Homo sapiens: one gene and its partners. The protein of the gene in region 3 interacts with the protein of the main gene of each other region in a biochemical or structural test. Each region holds a gene or a part of one and is shown on either strand. Other genes may lie near its edges.

What was found.
Region 1: the proteins of NUP153 (region 3) and NXF1 form a complex in vitro, tested with the Homo sapiens proteins (2 studies listed by BioGRID and IntAct).
Region 2: the proteins of NUP153 (region 3) and XPO1 form a complex in vitro, tested with the Homo sapiens proteins (one study listed by BioGRID).

What each region holds. Positions count from the first base shown.
Region 1 is NC_000011.10:62,795,302-62,802,806, reverse strand, and holds part of NXF1 (nuclear RNA export factor 1), read left to right. Parts: intron 1-546; coding exon 547-630; intron 631-760; coding exon 761-865; intron 866-987; coding exon 988-1,068; intron 1,069-1,175; coding exon 1,176-1,245; intron 1,246-1,389; coding exon 1,390-1,478; intron 1,479-1,605; coding exon 1,606-1,713; intron 1,714-2,320; coding exon 2,321-2,430; coding exon of another isoform or gene 2,431-2,485; exon of another isoform or gene 2,486-4,231; coding exon 4,232-4,268; intron 4,269-5,420; coding exon 5,421-5,489; intron 5,490-5,568; coding exon 5,569-5,624; intron 5,625-6,239; coding exon 6,240-6,347; intron 6,348-6,461; coding exon 6,462-6,520; intron 6,521-6,625; coding exon 6,626-6,741; intron 6,742-6,863; coding exon 6,864-6,906; intron 6,907-7,505.
Region 2 is NC_000002.12:61,479,218-61,486,722, reverse strand, and holds part of XPO1 (exportin-1), read left to right. Parts: intron 1-760; coding exon 761-955; intron 956-2,617; coding exon 2,618-2,786; exon of another isoform or gene 2,787-3,631; coding exon 3,632-3,766; exon of another isoform or gene 3,767-4,096; intron 4,097-4,183; coding exon 4,184-4,343; intron 4,344-5,441; coding exon 5,442-5,538; intron 5,539-6,139; exon of another isoform or gene 6,140-6,398; intron 6,399-7,505. UniProt on the Homo sapiens protein: Mediates the nuclear export of cellular proteins (cargos) bearing a leucine-rich nuclear export signal (NES) and of RNAs.
Region 3 is NC_000006.12:17,696,479-17,703,983, reverse strand, and holds part of NUP153 (nuclear pore complex protein Nup153), read left to right. Parts: intron 1-7,505. UniProt on the Homo sapiens protein: Component of the nuclear pore complex (NPC), a complex required for the trafficking across the nuclear envelope. Functions as a scaffolding element in the nuclear phase of the NPC essential for normal nucleocytoplasmic transport of proteins and mRNAs.

The sequences.
Region 1 (7,505 bases), on a different chromosome or scaffold from region 3:
GTAAATAATATCTTGGAACTTTTAGAATAAATAAAATTGATTTTTTTTTGAGAGATTATAAGTGTAAATGGGCTGGGTACAGTGGCTCATGCCTGTAATCCCAGCACTTTGAGAGGCCGAGGTGGAGGATCACTTGAGGCTGGGAGTTCAAGACCAGTCTGGGAAATACAGCAAGACCCCTTCTCTACAGAAAATTTTAAAATTAGCCGGGCATGGTAGTACATGCCTGTAGTCCTAGCTACTCCAGAAAGCTGAGACAGGAGGATCGCTTGAGCCTAGGAAATGAAGGCTGCAGTGAGCTATGATCGCACCACTGCACTCCAGCCTGAGTGACAGAGTGAGGCCCTGTTACTAAGAAAAAATAGTAAGTGTAAGTAGACAGAAAGGAGTTAAAGAATCTATGTGTATCTCAAGTAGAAAACCTAGTACTGGTCCTTTCTTTAGATAGTCTTTAAAAGTTTGGTAGAAGGTATAAAAGGCATTGTATTGGGTCTGCTATTCAGCCTTACTTATCATTCCCTTCTTTTCTCTTTCTCTCATTTCTAGATTCCTTATGGCAGAAAGTATGACAAGGCATGGCTCCTGAGCATGATTCAGAGCAAGTGCAGTGTGCCCTTCACCCCTATTGAGGTAAGACAAGGCCTGAGTGGCTGGCTGGCCAGGCACCAGGGATGGTGAAGGGGCAAGCTGGACTCCCAGCGTAATGCCCCTCCCCAAGGGCTCTGGACTCCCAGTGTAATGCTCCTGTTTCCTCTTGTAGTTTCACTATGAGAATACACGGGCCCAGTTCTTCGTTGAAGACGCCAGTACTGCCTCTGCATTGAAGGCTGTCAACTATAAGATTTTGGATCGGGAGAACCGAAGGGTGTGTTTAAAGGGCCTGGCTTGGCTGGAGGTGGAGGTTGGTGCTCAGAGCAGGGACTGGGTCTTGTTCTTGCGGCTTAGGCTTCCCTAGAGTTTTCTGTGCCCTCTGTGTCTTCCCTCCAGATATCTATCATCATCAACTCTTCTGCTCCACCCCACACTATACTGAATGAACTGAAGCCAGAACAAGTAGAACAGCTAAAGGTGAGGCAGGCTCAAATTAGATGTTTCCAACCCAGTCTTACTACTTCTCACACCCCCACCCCCCACACACAAACCCAGTGACCACTAAACCCTTCTTTTTCCTCTAGCTGATCATGAGCAAACGATACGATGGCTCCCAACAAGCCCTTGACCTCAAAGGCCTCCGTTCAGACCCAGGTATGGTTGACAGCAGTAGTTCTCAGATAGGTGGTGATAAGGTGGGATCTGTCAGGGAGGGAAAGTTTGAGGATGTTTTACTGCTAATGCTGGCATGGGCAAACCCTCTCAGTCTTCCCTTTCCTTCCCTTCTGCTTCCTGAAGATTTGGTGGCCCAGAACATTGACGTTGTCCTGAATCGCAGAAGCTGTATGGCAGCTACCCTGAGGATCATTGAAGAGAACATCCCTGAGGTAAGGCCTTTGGCCCAGTATTAGGCATGAGGAAGCAGGGTGTGTTAGATAGGAAGTGGCTGGAGGGCAGATTCGTCTCTGATCCACTTGCTGGTGGTGCCTCCTCTAAACTCTTCTCTCCTCACAGCTATTGTCCTTGAACTTGAGCAACAACAGGCTGTACAGGCTGGATGACATGTCTAGCATTGTTCAGAAGGCACCCAACCTGAAGATCCTAAACCTTTCTGGAAATGAAGTGAGAATTGATAGCTCGGCTATATTTTTGAAGGGGTGGGTAGAGGGTGTAGAGAGTTTGTCCAGTGATGGCAAGAGGCAAGAGAGAGAACTCAGGCCAGATGTGCTGGTTTGCAACTCTAATCCTAACACTTTGGGAGGCCAAGGCAGGAGGATCACTTAAGGCTAGGAGTTTGCACGCCTCTAGTCCAAGCTGCCCCAGGGGGCTGAGGTGGGAGGATTGCTTGAGCTCAGGAGTTCAAGGCTGCAGTGAGTTATGATTGTGCCGTTGCATTCTAGCCTGAGCAACCTGTCTCAAAAAAATTTTTTTAATTTAAAAAATAAATTAGTCGAGCATGATGTCACATGCCTGTAGTCCTAGCTACCCAGGAGTCTGAGGTGGGAGGATCTCTTGAGTCCAGGAGTTTGAGGCTGCAGTGAACTATGATCATGCCACGGCACTGAACTTGGGTGACAGAGTGAGACCCTGTCCCAAAAAAAAAAAAAAAAGAAAAAATTTTAAAAGATTAGAAAAGATCTCAGAGCTAAGCGTAGGGACTGGGGGTATGGGGAGCCAGCTGGCTGTCTTCACCAGGGTCTCCTCCCTTTGTTCCTTCCACCCTTTGCAGTTGAAGTCTGAGCGGGAATTGGACAAGATAAAGGGGCTGAAGCTAGAAGAGCTCTGGCTCGATGGAAACTCCCTGTGTGACACCTTCCGAGACCAGTCCACCTACATCAGGTCAGTTGTAGCCTGTGTCTCCCCTCCTGGGGACCTTCACCCCCTGGGAGGCTGAGCTAATGCATCCTGACCAGGGCCCGTCTGCGGAGATGTGCAGCCCTGAGCTGGAACCACCTGTCCTTTGAGAGGATCGCGTGCTCCCCACTTTGGTCTGTCTGTGTCTTCCAGCTTTGTCCTGAGATGTTCTCTCTTCTCTTCTGACTTGACTATCTGTTTGCTGGGTCTGTGGCCTTTCTCTTTCTTCCTGAACACAACCTTTTCTAGAATCTCCCTACCCTGTTGTTCCAGGAAAGGCATCTCCCCTTTCTACTCTAACCAGAGGGTATCTTGTACATACCCTATAGATGGGGTTGCCTTGTGCCAAGAGCCTGGTGTCCATGGGTTGAGGAAGCCCTCCCTACCTGGGACTTCCTACTGAGATGGGCCTTCCCTCCTTTGTACTGTGATGGCCCCTCTTGCCCTTGCGCCAAGAGGGACCCTTTTCTCAGGATCCACTTGCCCAGGGCTGTTGCTGTCCATGCTGAGGTTGAGGCCTCCTAGGGGCTGGTGGCATGCAATCTGTCTCTCTTGCCCAGTGCTATGAGCTGGGCTCTCCCTGAAGAAGAAACCTGGGTTCCCCAAGATGTGACCAGAGCTGGGGCCCCGCCAGCAGGCGAGGGAATCCCAAGGCAGGTGCTGGGCGTGGAGGCCACGGGGGCATAGGCTACCAAGGAGACAGAGAACTGACCCCCTCGGGGGCGCTGCCTCTCCCTCACTCACACACTGCACGTCACCCTGTTTGGCCCCGGTGGATGGCTGGTTAGCCAGAGACGGGTAAGATTCCTCAGGGAAGGAACAACCTAAGACAGGCACAGTCGCAGAGGGGCCATCAGGAGAGAACTTGGGGGCAACAGAGGTGGGGCATGGACCCTCACCCCCACAATCCTACAGGGGCCTGAACCCTCACACCTTCTGAGGGAGGTCTCCTGCCCCCATGGCTGCTTTGCTTCCCACGCCCAGTTCAGATCGGGACCCAGGTAGCAGACAGAGACCTGGCCAACAGCAAGTGCCCACTCACCACAGCAAGGATTTGTTTCTCATTTCTACCTTGGACCACAGGGATGGGGCAGCTGAAAGAAAGGGCTGTGTCAGGGTGTCTTTCTCCCTTTTCTCCCTCATTTTTCTAGATGCTTTTTTGCCTTGTAGTTCTTTCTCTTTTTCTTTGCTTTCTCTTTCCTTTTTCTGTCTGTCTCCTATACCTCCCCATCTCTCCCTTGCCCCTGCCCCATCTTGCCTTTTTCTCTTTTTCCTCCTTTTCCTTTCTTATTCCTTTGCCTCTCCTCTTCCTGAGCCCCACCTGCTCATCTCCCTGCCCCAACATCCTGTGCCATCCCTGTGGTGTGTTTGGGTCTTGGCCAAAGCCAGACCTGGCAGAACTGATGGATACCTGGTGAGGCAGCGGAGCCCCTGGGCTCCCACCCCATTCCCTCCTCCCGGGGCTGCACAGGTGAGTAGGTGGAAGGTAAGGGGGGCAGGGAGGGGAAAGAGGTCCTGGGCTTAAAGCCTGGGCTTGGAGTACTGCTCCTTGACACTCAGGGTCAGGCAGAGAGAAAAGAGACAGCCTTCAAGGCAGTCCATGTCTGGGTGCCCCGGGTCAGGTGGGGAGTGGGGGCCATTTTTCCCTGAGCACAGGCTGGGAGGGAGTGGAGGGATGAGCAGGATGGGATGGGCTGTCCCTCGGGTTTGGTATATTTGCTCCTAGAGCAGCCCAGGAGGCACGGTGGCTCTGAAGCATCACTCACTTCTGTCCCGTTCTTGACAGCGCCATTCGCGAACGATTTCCCAAGTTACTACGCCTGGTAAGTCCATAATTTTTTCATTCTAACAAGCACAGCATCTCTCACTCACAAGGATTCCTGGATAGGTTTCTTTTTCTTTTTCTTTTTCTTTTTTTTTTTTTTATTTGAGACGGAGTTTCACTCGTCGCCCAGGCTGGAGTGCAACAGCATGATTTCAGCTCACCGCAACCTCTGCCTCCCAGGTTCAAGCGATTCTCCTGCCTCAGCCTCCTGAGCCCAAGTAGCTGGGATTACAGGCATGTGCTACCACACCTGGCTAATTTTTGTATTTTTAGTAGAGACAGGGTTTCACCATGTTCGCCAGGCTGGCCTTGAATTCCTGACCTCAGGTGATCCACCTACCTCGGCCTCCCAAAGTGCTGGGATTACAGACGTGAGCCACTCGCACCAGGCCCTTTTTTTTTTTTTTTTTGGATGGAGTCTTGCTCTGTTACCCAGAGTGCAGTGGTGCAATCTTGACTCACTGCACCGTTTGCCTCCTGGGTTCAAGTGATTCTCCTGCCTCAGCCTCCTGAGTAGCTGGGATTACAGGCATGTGCCACAATGCCCGGCTAATTTCTTTGTGTATTTTTAGTAGAGATGGGGGTTTCATCTTGTTGGCCAGGATGGTCTTGAACTCCTGACCTCAACTAATCCATCCACCTTGGCCTCCCAGTGTGCTGGGATTACAGGTGTGAGCCACTGCGCCCAGCCTGGATCCCTGGATACTTTTCATGATGCGTTTACACTTGACTTCTGACCCTTCTCTCTTAGTTCTTCAGTCTACTTATGCACCCAGCCTTTTTCTCTCTGGTTTAAACTGTCAACTTTCTTTTTTGTTTGTTTTGTTTTTTGAGACAGGGTCTGGCTCTGTCATCCAGGCTGGAGTGCAGTGGCACAATCGTAGCTTACTGCAACCTTCGCCTGCCAGGCTCAAGTGATCCTCCCACTTCAGCCTCCCAAGTAGCTAGGACTCCAGGCACGCACCACCATGCCCAGCTAATTTTTGTATTTTTTTTGGTAGAGATGGGTTTTGCCACGTTGTCCAGCCAGGCTGGTCTCAAACTCCTGAGCTCAAGCCATCTGCCTGCCTCGGCCTCCCAAAGTTCTGGGATCACAGGTGTGAGCCACTGGGCCCAGTCTACACTGTCAACTTTTACTTCCTTTCCACAGGATGGCCATGAGCTACCCCCACCAATTGCCTTTGATGTTGAAGCCCCCACGACGTTACCGCCCTGCAAGGTAGGAAGCATGGACAGAGTAAGAACTTGTGTGTGGAGAGAATACTGCTTCCATGTTCCTAATACCTGTTTGATTTCAGGGAAGCTATTTTGGAACAGAAAACTTGAAGAGTCTGGTCTTGCACTTCCTGCAACAGTAAGTATCCCAGGGTCCCCCCTCCCCACCCCGAGGTTGAGGGGGAATGGTGGGCAGACCCAGGCACACATCAATCTTTTTGTTTTGTTTTTTGTTTTGTTTTTTTTTTTTTTTTTGGACAGTGTCTCACTGTGTCACCCAGGCTGGAGTGCAATGGTGTGATCTTGGCTCACTGCAACCTCTGCCTCCCAGGGTTCAAGTGATTCTCCTGCCTCAGCCTCCCCAGTAGCTGGGACTACAGGTGTGTGCCACTGCACCTGGCTAATTTTTGTATTTTTCGTACAGATGGGATTTCACTATGTTGGCCAGGCTGGTCTCCAACTCCTGACCTCATGATCCACCTGCCTCTTCCTCCCAAAGTGTTGGGATTAGAGGCGTGAGCCACCGCACCTAGCCATTTTTTTTGTATTTTTAGTAGAGACAGGGTTTCGCCATGTTGCCCAGGCTGGTCTTGAACTCCTGGGCTCAAGCTATTCACCCATCTCAGCCTCCCAAAGTGCTGGGATTACAGGCATGAGCTTCCATGCCCGGCCACAACTCACTCTTGGGAGCTACTGGGTCCTTGTATGGCTGTAGACCACAGAGCCCATACTTTCTTTTTTGTTTTTCCCATAGGTACTATGCAATTTACGACTCTGGAGACCGACAAGGGCTCCTGGATGCCTACCATGATGGGGCCTGCTGTTCCCTGAGCATTCCTTTCATTCCTCAGAACCCTGCCCGGTTAGTATCACATCCCAGAATCTGCCCGGGACCACTGGGTTTCCCAGCAGATACAGGGCACACCTGCTGGCAGCACTGCTCTGAACACCACGTCCATTCCTTTTATTCCCCCAGAAGCAGCTTAGCCGAGTATTTCAAGGATAGCAGAAATGTGAAGAAGCTTAAAGACCCTAGTAAGTGTGTGATACGAACAAAATATGGGAAAAGGGCATGGGAAGGAATCAGTCAGAACTCAGGAGTGTGTGGCAGCACCACTGAGCTTTCTCCTCTACCCACAGCCTTGCGGTTCCGGCTGCTGAAGCACACGCGTCTCAACGTTGTTGCCTTCCTCAATGAGTTGCCCAAAACCCAGCACGACGTCAATTCCTTCGTGGTAGACATAAGCGCCCAGACAGTAAGCTCCTGCTTGCGCCTGACAGAAGCCTAGAATTGGGGTGGGGGTGGCATTTAATAGGCAAGGGGGGGCACTCAGGCTCTGAGAAGTGTACATTGTACCTGATGCTGCTTCTCTTTCAGAGCACATTGCTGTGTTTTTCTGTCAATGGAGTCTTCAAGGAAGGTAAGAATCTTTAGAGTCCCGAGTTTGTAGCGTGGTCCCACCCCCAGCTGGAATTTTCCTCAGCACTCTTAGCTTCCCAGCTACTTTCTCTCCCATTTTCTTTTTGAGCTCCTTCTCCCATTCTGCCCCCAAGCCGTCTTGGCTTGGCCTACCTCTCCACCTGTCCTGTCTGGATGTGGGAAAAGCCTGGGGATTAGGAGGACTTTGGAGTCAGGCAGTTCTTAGTTTCCATCCTAGTTTTGGTTGTGCGGGGCTGTGGACAAGTAACATTACCTCTAAGACAGATTCTTTATTTGTAAGATGGGGTTAGTAATAGCCGTCTCATAGTGGTGCTATAGGAAGTAAACTGAAGTGACTTACAAAGTGCTTGGCCTGGGGCCTGGCATACAGATGCTATCAGTGGATTAGTAGTTATTACTTTTTTTTGAGATGGAGTCACACTCTATCACCAGGCTGGAGTGCAGTGGCGCAATCTTGGCTCACTGCAACCTCCGTCTCCTGGGTTCAAGTGGTTCTCCTGCTTCAGCCTCCCGAGTAGCTGGGACTACAGGTGCGCACTACCACGCCCAGCTAATTTTTGTATTTTTAGTAGAGAAGGG
Region 2 (7,505 bases), on a different chromosome or scaffold from region 3:
TAAAACATTAGTCTGAGTTGGGTGGATCACGAGGTCAGGAAATCAAGACCATCCTGGCTAACACGGTGAAACACCCCGTCTCTACTAAAAATATAAAAAATTAGCTGGGCGTGGTGGCAGGTGCCTGTACTCCCAGCTACTCGATAGGCTGAGGCAGGAGAATGGCGTGAACCTGGAGGCGGAGCTTGCAGTGAGCCAAGATGGCACCACTGCACTCCAGCCTGGGCGACAGAGCAAGACTCCGTCTCAAAAATAAAAAGACAGTATTGAGGGCTCGCTTGCTGCCATCTTACATATACAGTATACGTAGAATCCTGATTCTGCCACCTAAGTTGGAGACACCCACTGAATTTTGAGCCTCACTTTTCTTATTGTGAGAGTTTTGTAGCTGGGCATGGTGCTATACCTATAGTCCCAGCTACTCAGGAGACTGAGGCACAAGAATTGCTTGAACCTGGGAGGTGGAGGTTGCAGTGAGCAGAGATTTGCCACTGCACTCTGGTCTGAGTGACAGTGAGACTGTCTCAAAAAAAAAAAGTCTTGAATGACAGTGTGTCCATGAGACTTCCCAACCCATTGTGATTTCCTGCTTTCTTTTGCTAAAAACTGTTTTGACGTAGGAAACCCTAATACAAACACAAGATTTTCCTGTTTTCAGTAGATGATCATGCTACATCTCATAGACAGGAATAACCTTGTTGTTTAAAATAGTCACCATGTACCTAAATTAAAACATAACTTTTTTTTCCCTCCCCAACAGGTCGCTGAAAATTTTGTTCCCCCTCTGTTGGATGCAGTTCTCATTGATTATCAGAGAAATGTCCCAGCTGCTAGAGAACCAGAAGTGCTTAGTACTATGGCCATAATTGTCAACAAGTTAGGGGGACATATAACAGCTGAAATACCTCAAATATTTGATGCTGTTTTTGAATGCACATTGAATATGATAAATAAGGTGTGTAATATTTCAGTTATGTAAGGGGGAAATTCTGCAGGATAGCCTTAATTCTTGAAAGCTAAAGTATGTCTGTGGATATAACATAATTTTAATGCCATGGAGTTTAAATATTTAAACTTGTATATTAGGGAAATACTTTCTTGGTTTTCAAGAACTTACTTCCCAGGAGTTTGAAACCAACCTGGGCAATATAGTGAGACTTCATCTCTACAAAAAGTTCAAAAAGTAACCAGTCATGGTGGCATGTGCCGGTAGTCCCAACTACTCGAAAGGCTGAAGTGGGGGGGGGGGTCACTTGAGCCTGGGAGTTCAAGATGGCAGTGAGCTGAGATTGCGCCACTGCACTCCAAGAAGAAGAATTTACTACACAGAATCTTGATTGGTAAAAAGTAAATATGGAAAACAGATTTTAGCATTCACATGGTATGTAGCATTTATTGAAACCTCATAGGTCGGGGCATCCTTTTATGAACGTAGTTGTATTAATTGGTTTGAATAAATGAGAAAGTAAGTCTGCATGTTTCAATTATAAAAGTGTAGTATATGCTTATAAGAAACTGAAAAATGTGTTAACAAGAGAAAATAGGCTGGCCATGGTGGCTTACACCTGTAATCCCAGCACTTCAGAAGGCCAAGGCGGGCGGATGACCTGAGGTCGGGAGTTCAAGACCAGCCTGCCTAACGTGGCAAAACCCCATCTCTATTAAAAATACAAAAATGGCCAGGCGTGGTGGCTCAACACCTGTAATCCCAACACTTTGAGAGGCCGAGGCCGGTGGATCACCTGAGGTCAGGATTTCAAGACCAGCCTGACCAACATGGTGAAACCCCATCTCTACTCAAAGATTAGGCTGGGTGCCGTGGCTCACGCTTGTAATCCCAGCACTTTGGGAGGCCGAGGTGGGCAGATCACGAGGTCAGGAGATGGAGACCATGGTGAAACCCTGTCTCTACTAAAAATACAAAAAATTATCCGGGTGTGGTGGTGGGCGCCTGTAGTCCCAGCTACTCGGAGAGGCTGAGGCAGGAGAATGGCATGAACCCGGGAGGCGGAGCTTGCAGTGAGCCAAGATCGCGCCACGCACTCCAGCCTGGGTGACAGAGCAAGACTCTGTCTAAAGAAAAAAAATTAGCTGGGCATGGTGCCGCATGCCTGTAGTCCCAGCTACTCGGGAGGCTGAGGCAGGAGAATCTCTTGAACCCAGGAGGCGGAGGTTGCAGTCAGCTGAGATTGCGCCACTGCACTACAGCCTGGGTGACAGAGTGAGACTGTTTAAAAAGAAAAAAGAGATAAAAGATACGTTAAGTGGACACATTTACACGGTAACTTAAATTTTTTTGTAATCTGTAGTGGTGATTTCAAATTAAAAACAAAAGTGATAGTAGTAGTCTTATGGTAATAATGGTTTAGATGAGTTCTCTATTAAAAAGGTTGTCTTTCTCCTTCAATTTGATAACTCATGTGCGTAACGGGACAGTTTCATTTTCCGTGAGAGGTGGATTGTATTTTACTTGGGTTTACCTTTCAGGAGGCATTCTATCTTCTGTGGTTTATTGAAAACTCCAAATATTTATACTGGATTAAGCCTTGCTTTTCCCCTCCTGTCTAGCACAACAAAGACACTGAAACATTATTTTGTTTCCACCACTTATTTTTAGGACTTTGAAGAATATCCTGAACATAGAACGAACTTTTTCTTACTACTTCAGGCTGTCAATTCTCATTGTTTCCCAGCATTCCTTGCTATTCCACCTACACAGTTTAAACTTGTTTTGGATTCCATCATTTGGGCTTTCAAACATACTATGAGGAATGTCGCAGATACGGGTAAATAAAAGATGTTCTTTTATTCATTTGCCTGCCAATCCAAAAATACAAATATAGTTAATTGTACATAGGAAGGTATTACTTGTTCAGAGTTTTGAGTGTGTGAATTACATATATGAACATCTGAGAAAATCCTATAAGCAGTTTAATCAACTGTTCCACTCCACTCCAAGTGAGTCCATAGGCAGAATTGAGTTATGGGGAGAGCGGCCTAGTAATAATTGGTTTGCGTAATACAAAGTTCTACTGGGTAGTGATGTTGTAGAAGTTCATATAGAATCAGCTGAGCTTTCAGAAATGGTGAAAGGGTGGTAATAGTCATAACTTAGATTGTAATTTTTTTCCCATAGGCTTTTAAAAAATATTCATGAGGTTCTTTTTTTATTTCAATAGTTTTTGGGGAACAGGTGGTTTTTGGTTACATGAATAAGTTCTTCAGTGGTGATTTCTGAGATTTTGGTGCACCTGTCATGTGAGCAGTATGAACTCTACTTTATGTGTAGTCTTATCCCTCATGTGTATGAACTCCACCTTATGTGTAGTCTTATCCCTCACCCACTCCTGCCCTTCCCCACAAGTCCCCAAAGTCCATTATATGATCTTTATGCCTTTACATCTTCACAGTTTAGCTCTCACACAACTTATTATAATTTATAAGTAAGCCAGCATTGGATATAGTTGTATTCCATTATTAATTTAAGAAACCTTATGCAAGTAATTATTAGTCATCATCCCAAAAAAAAGGGAGAACAGGGTTAGATTCAGAATACTTTGATAAGAGCTAAATACTATCATGAGTGCTGTCAGTCTGTAGTAACTTTCCATTGGTATTCTATGTCTTTTAGGCTTACAGATACTTTTTACACTCTTACAAAATGTTGCACAAGAAGAAGCTGCAGCTCAGAGTTTTTATCAAACTTATTTTTGTGATATTCTCCAGCATATCTTTTCTGTTGTGACAGACACTTCACATACTGCTGGTAAGAATTTAATACGATTTAAATGTTAAGTGCCAGCTGGGCACAGGGCCTCACGCCTATAATCCCAGCACTTTGGGAGGTCGAGGCGGGGAGATTATGAGGTCAGGAGTTCGAGAACAGCCTGGCCACCATGGTGAAACTGTCTGTACTAAAAATACCATAAAAAAATAAAAGATACAATAAAAATACTGGGCATGGTGGCATGTGATTGCAATCCCACCTATTCGGGAGGCTGAGGCAGGAGAATGGCTTGGACCGAGGAGGCAGAGGTTGCAGTGAACTAAGATTGCGCCACGGCATTCCAGCTTGGGTGACAGAGCGAGACTCCGTCTAAAAAAAAAAAACAAAACAAAAAAAAACGCTAAGATCTATAGTTATATTACATTTTGGAGTTAATAATTTTCTTCTTATCAACAGGTTTAACAATGCATGCATCAATTCTTGCATATATGTTTAATTTGGTTGAAGAAGGAAAAATAAGTACATCATTAAATCCTGGAAATCCAGTTAACAACCAAATCTTTCTTCAGGAATATGTGGCTAATCTCCTTAAGTCGGCCTTCCCTCACCTACAAGAGTAAATATACCTTTTAATAAACGTAGAATGTTCCTGGTCGGGCACAGTGGCTCACACCTGTAATCCCAGCACTTTGGGAAGCCTAAGGTGGGAGGATTGCTTGGGCCCAAAAGTTGGAGACCAACCTAGACAACAAAACAAGATCCCGTCTCTACAAAAAAAAAAGTAGTCAGAAGTGGTATGCATCTGTAGGACCAGCTGTTGGAGAGGCTGAGGCGAGAGGGTTGTTTGCATCCTGGAGTTTAAGACTGCAGTGAGCTATGATCGCACCACTGTACACCAGCCTGGGTGATAGAGTGAGACCCTGCCTCTTTAAAAAAGCAAAAAAAAAAAAAAAAAAAAAAAGGCCACGCACGGTGGCTCATGACTGTAATCCCAACACTTTGGGAGGCTGAGGTGGGTGAATCACAAGGTCAGGAGTTCAAGACCAGCCTGGCCAAGATGGTGAAACCCCGTTTCTACTAAAAATACAAAAAATTAGTTGGGCATGGTGGTGGGTGCCTGAAATCCCAGCTACTTGGGAGGCTGAGGGGGAGAACTGCTTGAACCCAGGAGGCAGAGGTTGCAGTGAGCCGAGATTGTGCCACTGCACTCCAGTGTGGGTGACAGAGCAAGACTGTCTCAAAAAATAAAAAGGCTGGGCACGGTGGCAAACGCCTGTAATCCAAGCACTTTGGGAGGCCTAGGCGGGCAGATTACCTGAGGTCAGGAGTTTGAGATTTGCCTGACCAACATGGAGAAACCCTGTCTCTACTAAAAATACAAATTAGCCGGGCATGGTGGTGCATGCCTGTAATCCCAGCTACTTGGGAGGCTGAGGCAGGAGAATAGCTTCAGAGGTTGCGGTGAGCCGCGATTGTGCGATTGTACTCCAACCTGGTAAACGAGCAAAACTTTGTCTCAAAAATTAAAAAAAAATTCTTGATTAAAAAAAAAAAACATTATTGGGACGCTGAGGCAGGAGAATGTCTTGAACCCGGGAGGCAGAGATTACAGTGAGCAGAGATCATGCCACTGTACTCCAGCCTGGTGACAGAGCAATACTCTGTCTCGGGGGAAAAATAAATCATTATTTAATCATTGTGTTTTGATTTGCAGTGCTCAAGTAAAGCTCTTTGTGACAGGGCTTTTCAGCTTAAATCAAGATATTCCTGCTTTCAAGGAACATTTAAGAGATTTCCTAGTTCAAATAAAGGTATGTATTTATTTGCTCTTGCAGAAATATTAGGGGTAGATGTGACCACTTTTATGTTACATTGTAGAATTTTTATCACTTGATTTGTCATGCCAAATAAATGGGGTTTCAAGATAATACGTTTACACAATCTCTGTAATCAAAAAACCTGAGACTGGTAATACAGTGAAAAACTAAAGTCCAATAAGGATAGATATGTTTGAGATGTTATTCGGATAAACTTATTACTAATGTAATTCATTTTAGGTAGTCTTAAATGTATAATGGAATATTGGGTAAGAAAAACGTTGGTAGTTCTTTTTATAATTTTATACCAATTTTGTTAGTTGAGGGAACTTGTGAAAGTTACTAGATAGAATGTCTTTCTTCTGCTGTTATACAGTGCTTTATTCATACTTTTGGGAAGGGTTTTTCTTTGAACATCTTGCTTTAAAGAAATTTGGAAGTACTGTGAAACCCTAAGTAGTTGATGAATAGTTTATCCATGATTGTTGAATAAGAATTAGTCTCTTAGCTCTTAAATATTTTCTCCAAAATACAAAGGTTTTTTTTTTTTACTGTAAAAATATTAGCCAATTTTTAAAAAACTAATGAAAGTTACCTAGGCTGGGCGCAGTTGCTCATGCCTGTAATCCCAGCACTTTGGGAGGCCAAGGTGGGTGGGTCACCTGATGTCGGGAGTTTGAGACTAGCACGGCCAACATGGTGAAACCCCCGTCTCTACTAATAATACAAAAATTAGCCAGGCGTGGTGGCGCACAGCTGTATTCGCAGCTACTTGAGAGGCTGAGGCAAGAGAATTGCTTGAACCCACGAGGCAAAGGTTGCGGTGAGCCGAGATCACGTCATTGCACTCCAACCTGGGTGACAAGAGTGAAACTTCATCTCAAAAAAAAAAAAAAAAAGTTAACTGATAGCTACGAAGTCAATGATAATATAACTAAACTTAATTTAATGACAGTTATTAATTAGCCTTAGGAGAAACATCTTTCTTGGTATCTTGGCATATGAAGAATTTTTAGCTGGGCACAGTGGCTCACACCTGTAATCCCAGCACTTTGGGAGGCCGAGGCAGACAGATCAGTTGAGGTCAGGAGTTCAGGATCAGCCCGGCCAACATGGTGAAACCTCATCTCTACTAAAAATACAAAAATTAGCCAGGTCTGGTGGCAGGTGCCTGTAGTCCCAGCTACTCGGGAGGCAGAGGCAGGAGAATCACTTGAACCCAGGAGGCAGAGGTTTCAGTGAGCTGAGATCATAACACTGCACGCCAGCCTGGGCGACAGAGCAAGACTGCCTCTCAAAAGAAAAGAGAAAAAAGTGTCTGGGTGCAGTGGCTCATGCCTGTAATCCTAGCACTTTGGGAGGCCGAGACAGGTGGATTGTCTGAGCTTGGGAGTTTGAGATCAGCCTGGGCAACATGGTGAAACTACGTCTCTAGTAAAAATACAAAAAATGAGCCAGATGTGGTGGTGCCTGTAATCCCAGCTGCTGGGGAGGCTGAGGCAGGAGAATTGCTTGCATCTTGGAGGAAGAGGTTGAGATAATGTGCTGGGGCTACAGAACAAGACTCTATCACAAAGAGAACAAAATTTGTGTGAATACATAGTAGGTGTATATACTTAGGGGATGGGATGCATGAGATACTTCGGTAGAAGCATACAATGCATAATAATCACATTGAAGACTATTTACTGTAAGGTATCACACCATTTTTTTTGTTTTTTTTGGGGGGGCACAGTCTCGCTTTTATCACCCAGGCTGGAGAGCAGTGGCGTGATCTTGGCTCACTGCAACCTCCGCCATGCAGGTTCAAGTGATTCTCCTGCCTCAGCCTCCCAAGTAGCTGGGATTACAGGCGCCTGTGCCACCATGCATGGCTAATTTTAGTAATGACAGGGTTTCACCATGTTGGCCAGGGTGGTCTCCTGACATCAAGTATTCTTCCCGTCTCTGCCTCCCAAAGT
Region 3 (7,505 bases):
TAAAATAAAAATCTAATTTTGGGGAGATGATGTCTTAACAGCATAACACCTATGATCCAAGGTGTCTTAGAGTTGATACGACTTCAGGCTGTGTAGTTTTGTTTTAAATCTTGATAATTTATCATTGCCCCTTATCTAAAATACTTTTGCTTCTTGTCCTATTTAATTAAAAAAGAAAACATATTTTAGCTTTTGAATTGGGAAGTAAAGGTATTTAGGGGTTTCTTGATCAACACTGTAGGTGCTATTTAATATTGGCAGAAACTACCACTACCCAAGGAAAGTATTCAGGTATATTCAAAAGAATACTCTCCTTTTTTTTTTTTTTAATCTTAAAAATAAGGACTTTCTTTAGTCCTTATTGAGGCTTTGGTGGACATAGGGTCTACCCACTTGCTGTTTATTATCCTAGGCTGTCAACTGGATGTTTTGCAGAAGCTGCTGAGTCATCATGAAGCAAGCTTCATGACATGGCATGTTTTATACTAATGTTATTTGATTAAGTGTCCAAGGGTTTCTGGGCAAAAATTAAGCTTTTGGTAGTATAGCAGAAAGTTGGAGTAAGAAACAATGAGAGGTCTGGCGCTGTTAGTTAATGGATGTTTGCCAGTGCCTGTCAGGGCAACTTGGCTAGTACAGTCACCCAGTACCTATGACTTCTGCATGTGTTCATTTGACTTGTAATTTCCTGTTTTGACTTCTGGGTTTAGCTCTCCTGGGAAATGCTGTAAGTTTACTACTTTCCTTCTTTAACTTATTTTTTTTTTAATTTTTTTTTTTTTTTTTGAGATGGAGTCTCGTTCTGTGGCCCAGGCTGGAGTGCAGTGGCTCGATCTTGGCTCACTGCAACCTTTGCCTCCTGGGTTCATTCCATTCTCTTGCCTCAGCCTCCCAAGTAGTTGGGATTACAGGCATGCGCCACCACGCCCGGCTAATTTTTGTATTTTTAGAGACGGGATTTCGCCATGTTGGTCAGGCTGGTCTCAAACTCCTGACCTCAGGTGATCCACCCGCCACAGCCTCCCAAAAGTGCTGGTATTACAGGCGTGAGCCACCGCGCCCGGCCCAAATTCTGATCTTTAAAATGTCATCTTGCATGAAGTTGTGCAGACAAATTCATTGTCTTGCTCAAATAACTGAAGAGTTATAAGGGTAATAACTCTTAAGAATTGTAGAAGCAAATATGAAGAACAGCCCTGAATAATGCAAGCTGATCATTCTTACTTGCCTTCTCCCCTACCCCTTTACCTTTTTGCCTAGATGCATTTAGGAAATGGTGTCATTTTTCTTTTCTCCTTTCTTTTTTTGAGACGGAGTTTTGCATCTGTTGCCCAGGCTGGAGTGCAATGGTGCAATCTCGGCTCAGTGCAACCTCTGCCTCCTGGGTTCAAGCTATTCTCCTGCCTCAGCCTCCCGAGTAGCTGGCATTACAGGCATGCGCCACCACAAACGGCTGATTTTTTTTGTTTTGTTTTTGAGACAGAGTCTCGCTCTGTCACCCAGGCTGGAGTGCAGTGGCACGATCTCTGCTCACTGCAAGCTCTGCCTCCCGGGTTCACGCCATTCTTCTGCCTCAGCCTCCCGAGTAGCTGGGACTACAGGTGCCTTGCCACCACGTCCGGCTAATTTTTTGTATTTTTAGCAGAGACGGGGTTTCACCGTGTTAGCCAGGATGTTCTCGATCTCCTGACCTTGTGATCCACCCGCCTCGGCCTCCCAAAGTGCTGGTATTACAGGCATGAGCTACCTCGCCCGGCCAGAAATGGTGTCATTTTTCTAGTTGAGAGTGAATAGGTAACTGAAGAGAATGTGGTTAGTTCCTGTCTTCCTTTTCCATTTCCTTTTTGTTCAGATTGTCAGGCACAGAAAGTCAGCTCTTTGGAGAGGTCAGGCTGCTTGCTTTTCTTAGTAACCACTACAAAAAACTTGAGTCCATGGGCAAACCAGAACCTACTGCCACCTCCTGGTGAGAGGAAACCACTTATTTTTGCCCTTTTTGTCCCGGGATGGGGGTGGGGTGGGGTGGTGTGGGTAGTATGCTTCAGACATTTATCTTCTGGTTTAGAGCTAAGGGACTCCGCCTTTAATCCTCCTAGATATAGTTTGTCTTACAAGTCAGTTCCTGCATTTAGCTTTTTTCCCCCCCCCCCCGAGACAGAGTCTTGCTCTGTTGCCCAGGCTGGAGTGCAGTGGCACAATCTTGGCTCACTGCAACTTCTGCCTCCCGAGTTCAAGCAGCTCTCCTGCCTCAGCTCTTGAGTAGCTGGGATTACAGGCGCAGGCCACCACGCCTAGCTAATTTTTGTATTTTTTTTTTTTTTTTGAGATGGAGTCTTGTTCTGTCACCCAGGCTGGAGTGCAATGGTGCGACCTCGGCTCACTGCAACCTCCGCCTCCTGGGTTCAAGCAGTTCTCTGCCTCAGCCTCCCGAGTAGCTGGGACTACAGGCACGTGCCACCACGCCCAGCTAATTTTTGTATTTTTAGTAGAGACAGGGTTTCACCATCTTGGCCAAGCTGTTCTTGAACTCCTGACTTCCTGATCCACCTGCCTTGACCTCCCAAAGTGCTGGGATTATGGGTGTGAGCTACCACACTCGGCCTAATTTTTGTATTTTTAATAGAGACTGGGTTTCACCAAGTTGGCCAGGCTGGTCTCGAACTCCTCACTGCGTGGTCTGGCCTCCTCGGCCTCTCAAAGTGCTGGGATTATAAGCGTGAGCCACTGCACCTGGCGCATTTAGCTTTTTTTTTTTTTTTAGACAGAGTTTCGCTCTTGTTGCCCAGGCTGGAGTGCAACGGCACCATCTTGGCTCACTGCAACCTCCACCTCCTGGGTTCAAGCAACTCTCCTGCTTCAGCCTCCCAAGTAGCTGGAATTACAGGCATGCGCCACCACTCCCAGCTAATTTTGTATTTTTAGTAGAGATGGGGTTTCTCCATGTTGATCAGGCTGGTCTCGAACTCCCGACCTCAAGTGATCCATCCACCTGCCTTGGCCTCCCGCGAAGTGCTGGGATTACAGGCATGAGCCACTGCTTAGCTATTTTTAAAAAGGGGAAGGAAACCTCTTTATCAGTAGCTTAGATCAGGGGTCAGTAAACTTTTTCTGAAAGGGACACAGATAGTGAATTTTTAGGCTTTGCTGTGGTAAATTGTCCTTTGTTTTGTTTTTAAAAGTCCTTTAGCAAATGTAAAAACCATTCTTAGCTTGTATGAAAAAAGACCAAGGTCTGAATTTGGCCCAGCCCACAGGTCATTGTTTGCTATACCATGGTTTATATGATAGTATTGTTTTTATTTGTTTTGGTAGCTTCTTTGTGATACTCTGTCCCAAATAAGTATGTCCTGCCTGGTATCTGATAGCTGGAGTGTTCTCAGATTTGAAAAGGAGGGATATTTAGAGGTCGAATATTTAAATCATTCCAGAAGTCACCAAGTTTTTAACTTTTATTTTATCCTTATTTGCTTTATCCTAGATGCTTAATATAATCAGTGGGAATAGAAATGGAAACATTGATAGGATTGGATAGTTGATAGGATAGTTGTTAGGAAAACATTGTAGTGTAATGGAGTCAGCCTGAGTTTGGATCCCTGTTCTGCCTGGACTTGGACAAGTTAATTTACTCATCTGTAAAGTGAAAATTGTTGTGGAGGTTAAATGGGACAAGTGAAGATTTTAGAACAGGACCTGGCATATGTATATAGGTAAGGAGTTATTAAAAATTGAGTCCTTATTATATATATGCAATTGAAATTTGAAATTAAATAGAACTGTTTGATTTAGGATCTTTTTTTTTGTGGGAGACCACAGTTTTATTATTACTCAAATTAGTCTCCTGATTTAGGGTCTTCATATTGTCTCTGAATTTTCCTGCTTCTTATCAGAAGTTTTGTTTCCTTTAGGTGACTAAATTCAATACTTGCATGTATTAAATTGTTTAATGCAAAGTAGGTGTTTTGTTTGTGATGAGAGGTTTTGTGTGGTATTATATTAATTTACTTAATTTTTCTAATAAGTGACAAAAAAGTCCACTTGCTGTATCCATTTTCTGGGAAGTCCCTGACAAGGCAGATATCTTAGTTTGAAGTAAAATAAAAATTGTAGTCTGATGTCACTAATTAAAACTGTTTACTTTTCTTTTTTTTTGAGACAGAATCTAGCTCTGTCACCCAGGCTGGAGTGCCATGCTGTGATCTTGGCTCACTGCAGTCTCTGCCTCCCAGGCTCAAGGGATTCTCCTGCTTCAGCCTCCTGAGTAACTGGGGTTACAGGTGTGTGCCACCACGCCTGGCTATTTTTGTATTTTTAGTAGACACGGGGTTTCACCATGTTGGTGTGGTGGTCTCAAACTTCTGACCTCAAGTGATCTGCCCTCCTCGGCTTCCCAAAGTGCTGGGATTACAGGCGTGAGCCACCTTGCCCAGCCAAAACCATTTTCATTAGGCACAGAGTATTGCAAAGATTGTAATTATCTTGTATTTTCTTTTTTTTTTTTTTTTGAGACGAGTCTCGCCCTGTCACCCAGGCTGAAGTGCAATGGTGCGATTTCGGCTCACTGCAACCTCCGCCTGCCAGGTTCAAGCAATTCTCCTGCCTCAGCCTCTGGAGTAGCACGCACCATTATTCCTGGCTAAGTTTTTATATCTTTAGTAGGGACGGGGTTTCACCATGTTGGCCAGGCTGGTCTTGAAGTCCTGACCTTGTGATCTGCCTGCCTCAGATTCCCAAAGTGTTGGGATTACAGGCTTGAGCCACCACGCCCAGCTAGCTTGTATTTAAAAAAAAAAAAAATTATTTGTAGCTATTTAGCTTATCTTCATGGTTGTAATATATTTTTAAAAGATTCTTCTGTGTTGGGAAGTTTGGTTTCAAGTCTTGCTGACACATACCATTTACTGTCAGAAACAGGATGATAGGATGCCTTTTCTATCTATAGATATTTCAGTTTGCTTGATTTTGCATATCTTTTTCTTAGTGTGATTTAAGAAACAAACTCTTACTCCCAATTTTCAAACATGTTACCTGAGAAAAAGTGTGATAGTATCTTGTAGGTAACTTTTAGTGAGTTTAACTACTGTGAGCTTTTATTGAGTTTTCTTTTTTTTTTTTTAAGACAGTGTCACTCTGTTGCCCAGGCTGGAGTGCAATGGCACGATCTTGGCTCACTGCAACCTCCGCCCCGCTCTGGGATTCAAGTGATTCTCCTGCTTCAGGCTCCCAGCTCTTTTTTTTTTTTTTTTTTTGAGACAGAGTCTTGCTCTGTCGCCCAAGCTGGAGTGTAGTGGCGCGATCTCGGCTCACTGCAAGCTCTGCCTCCCGGGTTCACGCCATTCTCCTGCCTCAGCCTCCCAAGTAGCTGGGACTACAGGTGCCCACCACCACGCCCCGCTAATTTTTTGTATTCTTAGTAGAGATGGGGTTTCACCATGTTAGCCGGGATGGTCTCAATCTCCTGACCTTGTGATCCGCCCACCTCGGCCTCCCAAAGTGCTGGGGTTACAGGCGTGAGCCACCACGCCCGGCTGCTCCCAGCTAATTTTTGTATTTTTTCGGTAGAGACAGGGTTTCGCCATATTCCCCAGGCTGGTCTCCAACTCCTGGACTGAAGCAGAACCCCTGCCTTGGCCTCCAAAGCACTGAGATTACAGGCGTGAGCCACGGTGCTTGGACCTGAATCTAGTTTCAATAATCTGAATTTAACATCCAAATCTAAGACATTATTGGTTGTATTTTATAAGCCTATGCCATTCAGCAGCGAAGTTTACCCTATCCAATCAGTCCAAGTCCTCTAGCCATTTAAAGTACTTTTCTAGCTGAAGAATTAAAAACCTGCTCCCTGGGAGAATAAGATTCCAGAACCTTAAAACTGATGATGGACTGCATTTGATATTTATAGTTAAAGATCCAGTGAAACTATTTGAGAAAGGAGATTTTATAATCTGAACACTGCTAAGGATAATGTGAAGAAAAGGGAGTTGAACAGAACTGAAGTCAAGAAAACTAGTAGGAAGAAAAGAGCTTTGTATAGAAGGAAGGAAGGATATATAGGAATGACAAGGAGTTGGCCATACTGAAAAGATGCCTCTGGTTATTCCTGTGAAAAGGTTTATAAGAAAAGAATGTCGTTAATTACAAGTGAGTTCTGAGTTAGTGTTATAGAATAGCCTTCCCCCACCCCAGCTGTTTCTGAGTTAGTGTTATAGAATAGCCTTCCCCCACCCCAGCTGTTTCTGAGTTAGTGTTATAGAGTAGCCTGCCCCCACCCCAGCTGCCTTTCATTAATCCTTTTTTTTGAGATGGAGTCTCGCTCAGTCGCCCAGGCTGGAGTGCAGTGATGTGATCTCGGCTCACTGCAACCTCTGCCTCCTGGGTTCAAGCAATTCTCCCTCCCTCAGCCTCTCAAGTAGCTGGGATTACAGGTGCCTGCCACCACGCCTGGCTAATTTTTGCATTTTTTAATGGAGACAGGGTTTCGCCATGTTGGCCAGGCTTGTCTTGAACTCCTGACCTCAGGTGACCTGTCTGCCTCAGCCTCCCAAAGTGCTGGGATTACAGGCATGAGCCACTGCGCCCAGCTCATTAATCCTTCAACTCAGGTTAAATATAATTTGAAAAGCTAATGTATTCACAATACCTTATACGTTGAATGTTCCTGATATGTATGTAGTATTGAATTCTAATCCCCAGATTGAATTTTTAATTAGTCTAAATCTCAGTGGCATTTTTGACATGTTTTGCCAAATGAAGAACCCTTCTTTCTTGGAGAGAGAATACCCAGTGGATTTAGCCAGTTCACATTCTAAAATTCACTCCTTTAATCCTTGAACTTAAATTTATTATTTATGATTATGAAGTGTGGACTTTGCTTTAGGGCCACAGAGTATTTTTTAAGATTAATTTTTTTTTTTTTGAGACGGAGTCTTGCTCTGTAGCCCAGGCTGGAGTGCAGTGGTGTGATCTGGGCTCACTGCAACCTCCGTCTCCCAGGTTCAAGTGATTCTCCTGCCTCAGCCTCCTGGGTAGCTGGGATTACAGGCGGACACCACCTGCCAGCTAATTTTTGTAGTTTTAGTAGAAATGGTATTTCACCATGTTGGTCAGGCTGGTCTCAAACTCCTGACCTCAAGTGATCTGCCCACCTCGGCCTCCCAATGTGCTGGGATTACAGACGTAAGCTACTGCACCTGGCTGTTTTTTAAGATTTTATTTATTTGTTTTATTTTTTTGAGATGGAGTCTTGCTCTGTGGCCCAGGTTGGAGTGCAGTGGCGCCATCTTGGCTCACTGCAAGCTCCGCCTGCCGGGTTCACGCCATTCTCCTGCCTCAGCCTCCCGAGGAGCTGGGACTACAGGCATCCACCACCACACCCAGCTAATTTTTTATATTTTTAATAGAGACGGGGTTTCACCGTGTTAGCCAGGATGGTCTCGATCTCCTGACCTTGTGATCCACCCGCCTCGGCCTCTCAAAGTACTGGGATTACAGGCGTGAGCCACCGTGCC